Regions from separate parts of the Homo sapiens genome. Here region 2 is linked to region 1. Evidence: fine-mapped expression QTL. Tissue or cell type: whole blood. Region 1 holds a variant in brackets; the other region holds the start of a gene. All regions are shown on one strand. Distances are from middle to middle.

Region 1 (5,260 bases):
ATGGAGCTCCCCAGGAGAACTGAAGGTGGTGGAGGGGTGGGGGGTGGCAGAGCTGGGGCCCCCTCCCCCTCTAGGTGGGGAGACCTCCAATCAGTTGTCACCTGCCTCTCTGGTTCCAGTGGCTTAATTATTTCATTTAAGGCTGATTCAGACCCTGGCCAACACCGCAGAGCAATGCCGGTCCCCTTCCTGTGTGGTTCGTGCCCAGGAGAGCTCGGGTGGGAGAGGTGGCAGCCCACATGCAGAGGAGGAGCCTGGGAGAGCATGGAGCCCCCTCCCAAACACGTCCACACGGCCTGTTCTGCCACTCCCCATCTGTGGCCAGGGCTGGCGCCTCACCTCCAGGGCCTCAGTTTCCCCATCTGTGAACTGGGCGTCGTGGCCTGGCCCTGCCCACCTCGCAGTGAGGAGGAACTAAGATAGGTCATGTGGGGCAACTGTGTTAAATTGTGACAAAATAAGAGAAGATTGTCACCATTGTTACCAGCACCATCCTCAACGACATCAGTGTAGAACGTGCTCCCCAGAAACCCCAGATCAGACAGTAGTGCCTGGCAGGTGCCTGGCTGAGCAGGAGCTCCCGGGAGGGCCTCCGTCCTCCTCTGTCCTCTGTCTACTCCCACCCCGAGGCTGACCTGACACATCCCTCTCTACACCACCATCCCACGCCAGGCAGAGGGGACACCGTAGCCCCTACCCGTGGCCCCTGCACCCAACGTCACAGACTCATTCACCCGGCGAATGAGGGTCACGTTGACGAGCCGCTGGGCATCCTGGGTGTCTGCCCACCCGCAGGTGATGTGGCTGGTATAGTCACTGTAGCAGCGCAGGGTCTGCAGCAGGACGGTTTCTGACAAGAGGGGCAGGAAGGGGTCACCTCTCTCCCCTGCAGGGTCCCTTATCACCACCACCCCCAGCTGATCTGGGGCAGAGGTGCCCTGGGTTGGGAAGGGGGTCTGCCAGGGTGAGCTTCTGCCTGTGGACCCTCCTCTCCTGACAGAAGCACCGTGCAATCCCTGCAGAATGGAGACACGCAGCAGCGACAGGCCCTGCCCCCCAGACCCCCAGGCATCAACCCAGCCTTGAGATGAACCCCAAGCCAGGACGCTGCTGGAGCAAAGGTCTGGAGGTGGAACCACTGAGGTGCAGCGAGTGTCTGCTGGGGAAGGAGGAGAAGGGAAACGGTCAGAGCAGCCACCCTGGAGCCTGGGGGCCTGGAGTGCCGTGCTGAGAAATATGGGCTGGGAACCCAGACACACTCAGCTGGACTTTCCAGGACAGGATGAGCAGGAATGTGCAGGAGGAGGGAAGTGAAGGAAGCCCAGGGAAGGCCGGGGAAGAGACGAAGCAAGGGGAGCAGGAGGAGGGTGGGTGGGCAGGGTCCTGGGGGTATGGTGCGGGCCTCCTCCAGGGTGCAGCAGTGAGGAGGGGGCAGGGAAGGGGTGGGAGCCACGGAACTCACCTTCTGCCCCTGCCAGGCTAAGTCCCCAGCACAGGGCCAGCAGGGCCATGAGGAGCAGCTCCCAGGCCAGCACCATTTTCCTGGTCAGCTCTGGACAGGCAGGTGCTGGCACAGGTGGATGCTGGCCATGGGCTGGGGTGGGGTCTTCCATGCCCTGGAGTCCTGTGTTCCTGCCCAGCTGGGAGCCAGGCCAAGCTGATCTCACCAGGTCTTGTTATTCCTCCATCCATGAATTGCCATCCTACCCCAGGTCTTGAGAAAGGAGATGTGGGCCAGGATAAGGCCCATCCACCCCTCTCGTCTTCCCAGGGATATGGCCGATGAGGAGGGAGAAGGCCATGTTGGGGGTACGGGGAGCCTGGTCCTGCGCCTTCTCCACCTAGTGTGGATCTCCTCCTCTGCCACTCTCACCCTTCCCCGCAGTGCTGGTGTAGATTCTGTGTGTTTGTATTGGGTGCTACTGGGTTGATGCCCAAGTGGGCTGCGTTAAGCTCTTCAAGTGATTTTGGCAGATAAGCTTTGTGGATCCACCCACCACAGATGGAGCCTGTCTCCTCCCAGGTCTTGAGGATGCACAGACTCCCTTTGGGCCACCTCACTCAACACCAAACACTCCACCATCCTTCCTCACCTGCCCCAAGCTGTTACTGCCCATCCCTTCTTCTCTGCAGGAGCCTGAGGCATTTCTTAGTTTCTTGCCCTTTGTGATGTCAGAAGAAAAGACAGAGGTCTTCTTTTCTTCTTTCTCAACACTTCTGAAACCATGAAACACGCAAGCCTCCACCCACTCACACACCCACATACACACCTACACATACCTGCACACACATGCTCAGACAACCCTGATGGGACCTGACCACCCTACGAGGGCGCTGACAAGACCTTGAGGATGCTGGGAACGAGCCAGGAAGGAGGACAGGATAGGAATGGAGTTCCTGAGGAGGCAGCAGGGCTTCTCGGTACAGAAAATGGTGAACTCTCAGTCTTCCTGCCCTGGCCATGCTCAGCTGAACAAAACCACACCAGCTGGTCTCACTTAAATTCAGGATTACCATCGGAGGCGGGGGTTGTGGGGAGGCTCTTAACGCTGCCAGAACCCCAAATGACACTTCCCAGCAGCAAGGAGGAACTCTGCCCTTCCCAAGAAGCTATTTCACACCTCTCCACTTCCGTCACACCTCTACTTCCCCTGCACCCCATTCCCATGCCCCACTTCCCCTGCACCCCATTCCCATCCCCCACTTCCCCTGCACCCCATTCCTACACCCCACTTCCACTGGACCCCAT[TC/T]CCACAGCCCACTTCCCCTGCACCCCATTCCCATGCCCCACTTCCACCTTAAGGACTCACGTATACCCAGGCACTATACAAACACACACACCCACAACCACATGCACAGACGCCAATGCAGGCACCCCTGACTTGCATCAAAGTCAACACCCAAATGGGCCAAATGGCTCCAAGTGGAGGAGGAGGGGCAAAAGACAGGCATGGGCAGAGGGAGAAGAGGCTTCTGCTTCTGGCCATAATGGAGTAACTAGGACCAGGTATAGCCTTCTACTTTAGAAGTATAAAACTGGACAAACGATATTAAAAATCTGTTTTCAGCTGTTAGAAAAGAGGAGTCCTTCTATATGATCGCTCAGAGAGTGAAAACAAACACGGTAGGTCCTATGATCATCCTACCTTTCTTTTCTTTTTCTTTTTTTTTTTTTTTTTCTGAGAGGGAGTTTCGCTCTTGTTGTCCAGGCTGGAGTGCAGCGGCGTGATCTCGGCTCACCGCAACCTCCGCCTCCCGGGTTCAAGTGATTCTCCAGCCTCAGCTTCCCGAGTAACTGGAATTACAGGCACTCGCCACCACACCCAACTAATTTTGTATTTTTAGTTGAGACGGGGGTTTCTTCATGTTGGTCAGGCTAGTCATGAACTCCTGACCTCAGGTGATCCTCCCACCTCGGCCTCCCAAAGTGCTGGAATTACAAGCATAAACCACCGTGCCTACCTTTTTCTACCTTTCTACCACTTTCTTGACTGTGACGTAGGTAAAAGAACTCCAACATGACCATGGCAGTCTTGCTGTGTTGGGCGATAGGGGTCTGAGTCTGAAGAGGCAAAAGAAGCTGGAATTTGGTGTAGAAAACAAGAGAAGAAAGAGCTGCACAGAGAAAGAGACCCAGCAAATCTACACAGAGATCCTCTTGCATGTACTGCTGCACACTAAACCATGCATGTGTGGGGTGGAGCTCCACTAGACTGTGTAAATAGTACACAGAGAGATGTATCTGAACAATTTCCAGAACTCACCAAGGTCTGGGAGATGTTCAAGTTCCAACAAGCCAGAATAGGAATTCTTACTGAACACCTCACACATTCAGTAGAGAACCAAGAAGAAAAACACCTTAGTGCCAGCACTAAACCAGCCCAGGAGAGGGCCATTCTAAAACTGCTCTAGGCCAGCATGGTGGCTCATGCCTGTAATCCCAGCACTTTGAGAGGTCAAGGCGGGTGGATCACTTGAGGTCAGGAGTTCGAGACCAGCCTGGCCAACGTGGTGAAACCCCATCTCTACTAAAAATACAAAAATTAGCTAGGCGTGGTGGCAGGTGCCTCTAATCCCAGCTATTTGGGAGACTGAGGCAGGAGAATTGCATGAATCCAGGAGGCGGAGATTGCAGTAAGCAGAGATTGCACCACTGCGCTCCAGCCTGGGCAACAAAGTAAGACTCCATCTCAATAATAATAATAATAATAATAATAATAATAATAATAATAAAAGTCCTCTAAGGAAGCTTAAAAACAAACCTTAAAAGATCAAACTGATTGATATGGTTTGGATTTTTGTCCCCATCCAAATCTCATGTTGAAATGTAATCCCCGATGTTGGGGGTGGGGCCTGGTGGAGGTGTTTGGATCATGGTTGGGGGATCCCTCGTGAATGGCTTGGGCCATCCCCTTGGGGATGAGTGAGCTCTCACTCTGAGTTCACAGGAGATCTGGTCATTTAAAAGTGTGTGGTACCTACCCCTACGCTGATCTCTCTCTCTCTTTCTCTCGTTCCTGCTTTCATTGTGACGTGCCTGCTCTCCCTTCACCTTCTGCCACAATTGGAAGCTTCCTGAGGCCTCCCCAAAAGCTGAGCAGATGCCAGCACCATGCTTCCTGTACAGCCTGCAGAACTGTGAGCCAATTAAACCTCTTTTCTTTATAAATTACCTGGTCCTGGGTGTTTCTTTATGACAGCATGAAAATGACCTAATACAGAAAATTGGCACTGAGAGTAGGATATTTTCCATATTAGGTCATTCTCATATTGCTGTAAATCAATGAATGCCTTAGACTGGGTAATTTATAAAGAAAAGAGGTTTAATTAGCTTACAGCTCTGCAGGCTGTACAGGAAGCATGGCACCGGCATCTGCTTCGTTTCTTGGGGAGGCCTCAGGAAGCTTACAATCATGGCAGAAGGTGAAGAGAGAAGGCACGTCACACAGTGAAAGCTGGTACAAGTGAGAGAGAGAGAGAGAGAGAGAGAGAGAGAGCACTAGTGCAGAGGCAGCTGCCACACACATTTATTTTAGTTTTTTTTTATGTTTTTATTATTATTTTTGAGACGGAGTCTCGCTCTGTTGCCAGGTTGGAGTGCAGTGGCACGATCTCAGCTCACTGCAACATCCACCTCCCTGGTTCAAGCTATTCTCCTGCCTCAGCCTCCCAAGTAGCTGGGATTACAGGCGCACACCACCACACCTGGCTAATATTTCTATTTTCAGTAGAGACGGGGTTTCACCATGTTGGCCAGGCT
Region 2 (5,000 bases), 41 kb before region 1:
GGCAATGATCATCATGATAATGTTTAATTAAATTAAGGAACATCATTGCATACTGAAATTATACAAGTGTGGGAGTGGGATGAGAAAGCTTAAAAGTATCTCCCTACCAAATGCTTATAAATTACGATGTGGAAGGGGAAGTAACTTTACAATAGAGAAACTTGATTGGTGTCAAGTTAATCAAATGATCAGAGCGAACGACATTAGTGATGGGACAGATTGACAATGAAAGCTAATAGGACTCACCAAGAATAATCCAGCATCACTTCTGTGCTATTTTGGCCAAAAAAGCATAACCCAGTTCTAATCATCAGACAGAGCCAAATCGAGGGACATTATTCAAAACAACCAACCTGCAGTCTTCGAGATGTCGAGGAAAAAACAAGGCATCTGTTTCAAACTGGAGGCCCGAAAGACATGGCAACTAAGAGCCATGCATTTAGAGAGAATGCAAAGTCCCGGATGGATTTTCTTGTTACAAAACCATTATTGAGAAGCTTAGCGAAACTCAAAGGGGGTTTCCACATGAAGGGTATGTGAGAGTTCTTTGTATCATTCCTTTAACGCTCTGTATTTTGAAATAGTTTCAGAATAAAAATGGAAATGGAAAAAAATGCAATGTTAACATATACGAGTTACTACTTTCAACAAGTTATCTTCCTTTTCATGCCTCAATTTCTTCATCTGTAAGGTGAAGACAGTAACAGCTACATAAAGGTTATTGGGAAGAGATGGAGAAGCCCCCAGCCGAAGGTCTGCTCACAGCGTAAATGCTCAAGCCCTGGTCATTATGAGTACTACGTTCTTGCCAACATTTTCTTGGGTTTCTTAGTCTCTAAAAGATCGTCAATTGCAAGACACGGTATTTTACATACCACTGAAGGAAAAAACAAACAAACAAACGAAAACATTCAATGAATTCCTGACGGTGTGATTCTTCTCGCTTAGAACTTTTAATACTTATTGAGAGAACTCTGTTAGACTCATTCAAATGTAGATTTTTATCCCCTGCTGCTCTATGATGACTTTTAAAAGGAAAGGGTCAGTCAAGTGAATTGGCTGAGGTGTTCCTAAAGCTCCTTCACATTTTGGGTCTGGTGTCCGGAGTGATTTTGACTCAGAGTCTCGGGTTCTTCGTTTCTCCACCAGACAGCATCCTCTGTGCTCCTGAGGGCATCCAGGCCCGCAGCCTCCCAGTCCCACAGAGGACCTCAGCAAAGACAGGCAGAGTGGGGACACCTGGGAGAAAAGAGAGCCCGGGACGTCACTTTAATTCCATCCTCTCCAGCCCTGGAGAAGCCCCTGCAGGGTTTTTCCATGCCAGGCAGGGACCTCACACTGACCGGAGTGCCTGAGAGAACCACACATGCCTTCCTCTACCCTGGGCTTTCTCTGCTAGGGTGAGGCCCTGCCAGCTCTTCCTGGCCAACCCTGCCCTTCCTGGTAGGAGGAAAGCAAAGAACAACAATCAGGCCAGAATTCCAGTGGCTTCGAGGCAGGTTCCTGCCCCTCCATTTCCTCCATTCCCCTCATTCTTGCCCTCCATTCCCCTCATTCCTGCCTGCTGCCCTTTCTCCTGGGAGGCAGCCCCATGTAGGAGAAATATGACTGCGTTTTGTTGTGTCTTGGCACTGTGATTCATCTTGTCTTTATTCAAACTTTTCATATTTGGTTCACCGTGAATAGTTTCTGCATCAGTTGGGATTTTTTTAAACCATATTGCATTAAAATATTACTTACAACAATTACTGAATTTTTAAATGCCTGTTTAAATTTTGAGCACGAGAGACTGCCTCACTCACCTGACCTTAATTCTGCTGGCCCTGCTGTGCTCAGGGAGCCACTCATTCATTCATTCATTCATTCATTCATTCATTCATTCATCTATTCATTTGCACACAGTCAAAGGTGCAATTTCTCCTCTGTACCAGGCCATGTGCTAGGTATTTGGGAGGGAAGTGCAAGCCGGACACAAGCCAGCACTGAAGATAGTGTCAGAAGAAAGACAGCCATGAACACACATGACCATATGACACATGGTGGGGTGGGGCGGCAGGGCAAAGAGGACATCGGGGAAATCAACATGCCACCAGCTACCACTTGTAGGGGGTTCTCCTGTGGCCAGCTCTGAGCTAAGGTCTTCCTGCACAGAATCTCACTGGATTCCCTCAACAGTCCTTCCAGGTTTGTAGATGCTTCTGCAAAAGTAACAGACAGATGGATGTCCCGAGGCTTGGGGAAGTAACACGCAGATGATTTGCACAAGGACACGCTTTAAGAAGCAGTGGACTTGGAAGTCCAACACAGATCTGTCTGGCTCTGGGCTCAAACCAGCTATGGTTATTGCAGCCACTTCCACCTGCATCCCCATCAAGCAGTCAGGGAAGGCTGCATGGAGGAGGCCCTGCGTCAGCTGAGGCTTGAAGGAGGCCTAGGAGTTTATAGGAAGGTAAATTGGAGTAGGAGGCTTTCTGGAAGTAAGAAAAGTCACGTGCACTATTAGCAAAGTAGGCCTGGGCCGGCACTGCTTCCTCTTTCTGCTTCTCTGTTTCCTGATGACATCAACATAAATAGGAAACGTGGGAGGCTCACTCTGCCTAGAGGCTCCAGAAGAAGACTGGTCTCTCCCACCACACAGAGGTATGGCCCGGCGTCCAGGAGCAGGGCTGAGGGGTGGGGTCAGAGCAGGGGGGAATGTGGGGAGTCCAGGATGAAAAAGGACAGGGGGAGCCTGGGGGGCGTCCTGTGGGTAGCTGTGCCCTGGGGACTTGGAGGAGTTAGGGCTTGGCCTCTTAGGATGACCTGAGCCCAGACTCCTAGGGCGGCCAGTGGATGGGGAGGCAGCCAGGGGTGCCAAGCTGCTTGGGTGTTGTAGGAGAGCTCTGGGGAGGACTCAGCCTCGCTAGCGGGATCTGGTTGGTCCTGGTGGGAAGGACGCCTAGTGGGGTGAAGAGAGCTCAGGCCTGGGAGTCAGGCACCTATAGTCTGTCTTCGCTTTGTCACTAAGATGCTGGTGGTAGTGAGAGCACCCCCTGTCCACCCTGGGCTTCTGTCTCCTCATCTGTGGAATGGGGAGCATGGATAGTCCCTGACATCTTGGTTTAGAAAGAGAGAGAACGCATGCTCGTGTGTTTGCCCGTGTGTGCATTTGTGTGTGTGCCTGTGTGTGTATGTGCATGTGCGGATGTCTGGGGATGCAGGAGTGCAGAGAGACTAAGAGGCAGAGGGTGAAACCTGGAAGCTTGCTGCGCTGAGGCCCAGAGCTGGGTGCGGTGTGGCTTGAGAAGCTCACTTTGAACTTGAGAAAGAGCCCAGCACTTTGCCCAGAGACATACCAGGCACTATCCAGCAATCTCTCTCTCTCTCTCTCTCTCTCTCAGTCTCTCTCTCTGTCTGTCTGTCTTTTTAGTTATGACACTCTGCCCTGCTGATTTGGGTTGCTGATTTGGGTTGGGGCCCAGGTGTGTGTGTTCTGTACCCAAGTATGCTGGCTGGGTGGGTGGGTATCTGGGGTGCCTGCTTCAGGGTGTGTGCAGGTGTGTGTACTGGCCCTGAGAATGAAAGGGCAGGTGTTTCACTGGGACCTTGTCAGACAGGTGCTAGCGACAAGCTGCATATGTGCAATTTTTAGTCTTCAAAAACCCTGCTGTTATATTTTTGTACAGCCCAATTCTAATTTTTTTCTATCATCTTTCCTGCTTTGTAATCATTTTATAATGAGTAAACATTTCCTATTAGCTTTTGGTCACTCTTTTTTTCATCCAGCAGTTTTATTTATATTGTTCCAGTATACAGATATACCAACACCACAGGATAATTCATGAGTTGTATAAGGAATGTATTTAATGCTAAACAAGCAACTACACAGAAACCTACCTTCATGAAAATTAGAATAATCTAGAATTATGTAGCACAAGAGACAAAGTCCCCAGCAATTTCTTTTCCCTAGTTCCATAGCTTATTCTTTTCACCACATGTATTCTTCCAGAACATTTTCTAAGCATGATACAAGCATATAGTTTTTCTTTTCCTGTTTGTTTTTTGTTTTGTTTTGTTTTGTTTTTGTGACAGAGTTTTACTCTTGTCGCCCAGGCTGGAATGCAGTGGTGCAATCTTGGCTCACTGCAACCTCTGCCTCCCGGGTTCAGGTGATTCTCCTGCCTCAGCCTCCTGAGTAGCCGGGATTACAGGCATGAGCCACCACACGTGGCTAATTTTTGTATTTTTAGTAGAGACAGGGTTTCACCATATTGGCCAGGCTGGTCTCGAACTCCTGACCTCAGATGATCCGCCTGTCTCAGCCTCCCAAAATGCTGGGATTACAGGCTTGAGCCACTGTGCCAGGATGGTAGTTTTTCTTTTTACAGAAATGGGATTATTTTATTTATATATATATATATATATTCCTAATTTTTTCACTTAATATTGTATTTTGGAATATTTCCAAATTTCTACAATAATACATACAGATTTAACTCGTTAAGTAACCCTAAGAAATATGTGGCATTTATTAGGATGGGTACACCACAATTCATCTAATCTCACGTTGATCGACACCTAGATTGTTTCTAATTTTTCCACATCTGTGAAAGTGTTTCTGTAGCCTAAATTACTAAATGCAGAATTGCTGTGCAGAGGTTGTGCGTTAGAAATTATAATAGGTATTGTCAAATCAGCCTCAAAGTAGCTGAGCTAAGCTGACGTCCCCAAGGTAGTGCATAAAGGGTCCAATTTACCTTTAGAGAAATTATCAATCTTCTAATTTTGTCCAATATTATGTATGGAAATTCTCAATGTCGCGTGATTTTTTTCTTTCCCTGATTATGGGTGAAGTTGTACATTTTCTATATGTGGATTGGCCTTTTGGATTTCATTTATGATGAATGTGGAGAAATTTTTGTTCATCTCCTGTTGAATTCTCTTTTACATCTTAACTTTTGGAGTGACTCATTTATTACGTGTATTAATAATCCATTTATATATGTTGAAAATATATTCTC

The links. PIP is the estimated chance that this variant, and not a neighbour inherited with it, causes the effect.
Region 2: CSF2RB starts here. The variant in region 1 is fine-mapped to the expression of CSF2RB in whole blood (INTERVAL, PIP above 0.99).

The regions. Positions count from the first base shown.
Region 1 is chr22:36,952,186-36,957,445 of GRCh38, forward strand. LOC124900478 (a long non-coding RNA gene) reads right to left here and starts at 2,475. Exons shown (of 3, transcript XR_007068091.1): 1 at 1,463-2,475. It also overlaps the pseudogene CSF2RBP1. The variant TC/T (reference allele first, on the strand shown) is at 2,750.
Region 2 is chr22:36,911,038-36,916,037 of GRCh38, forward strand. CSF2RB (colony stimulating factor 2 receptor subunit beta) reads left to right here and starts at 2,591. Exons shown (of 14, transcript NM_000395.3): 1 at 2,591-2,640. RefSeq lists an enhancer at 424-1,125.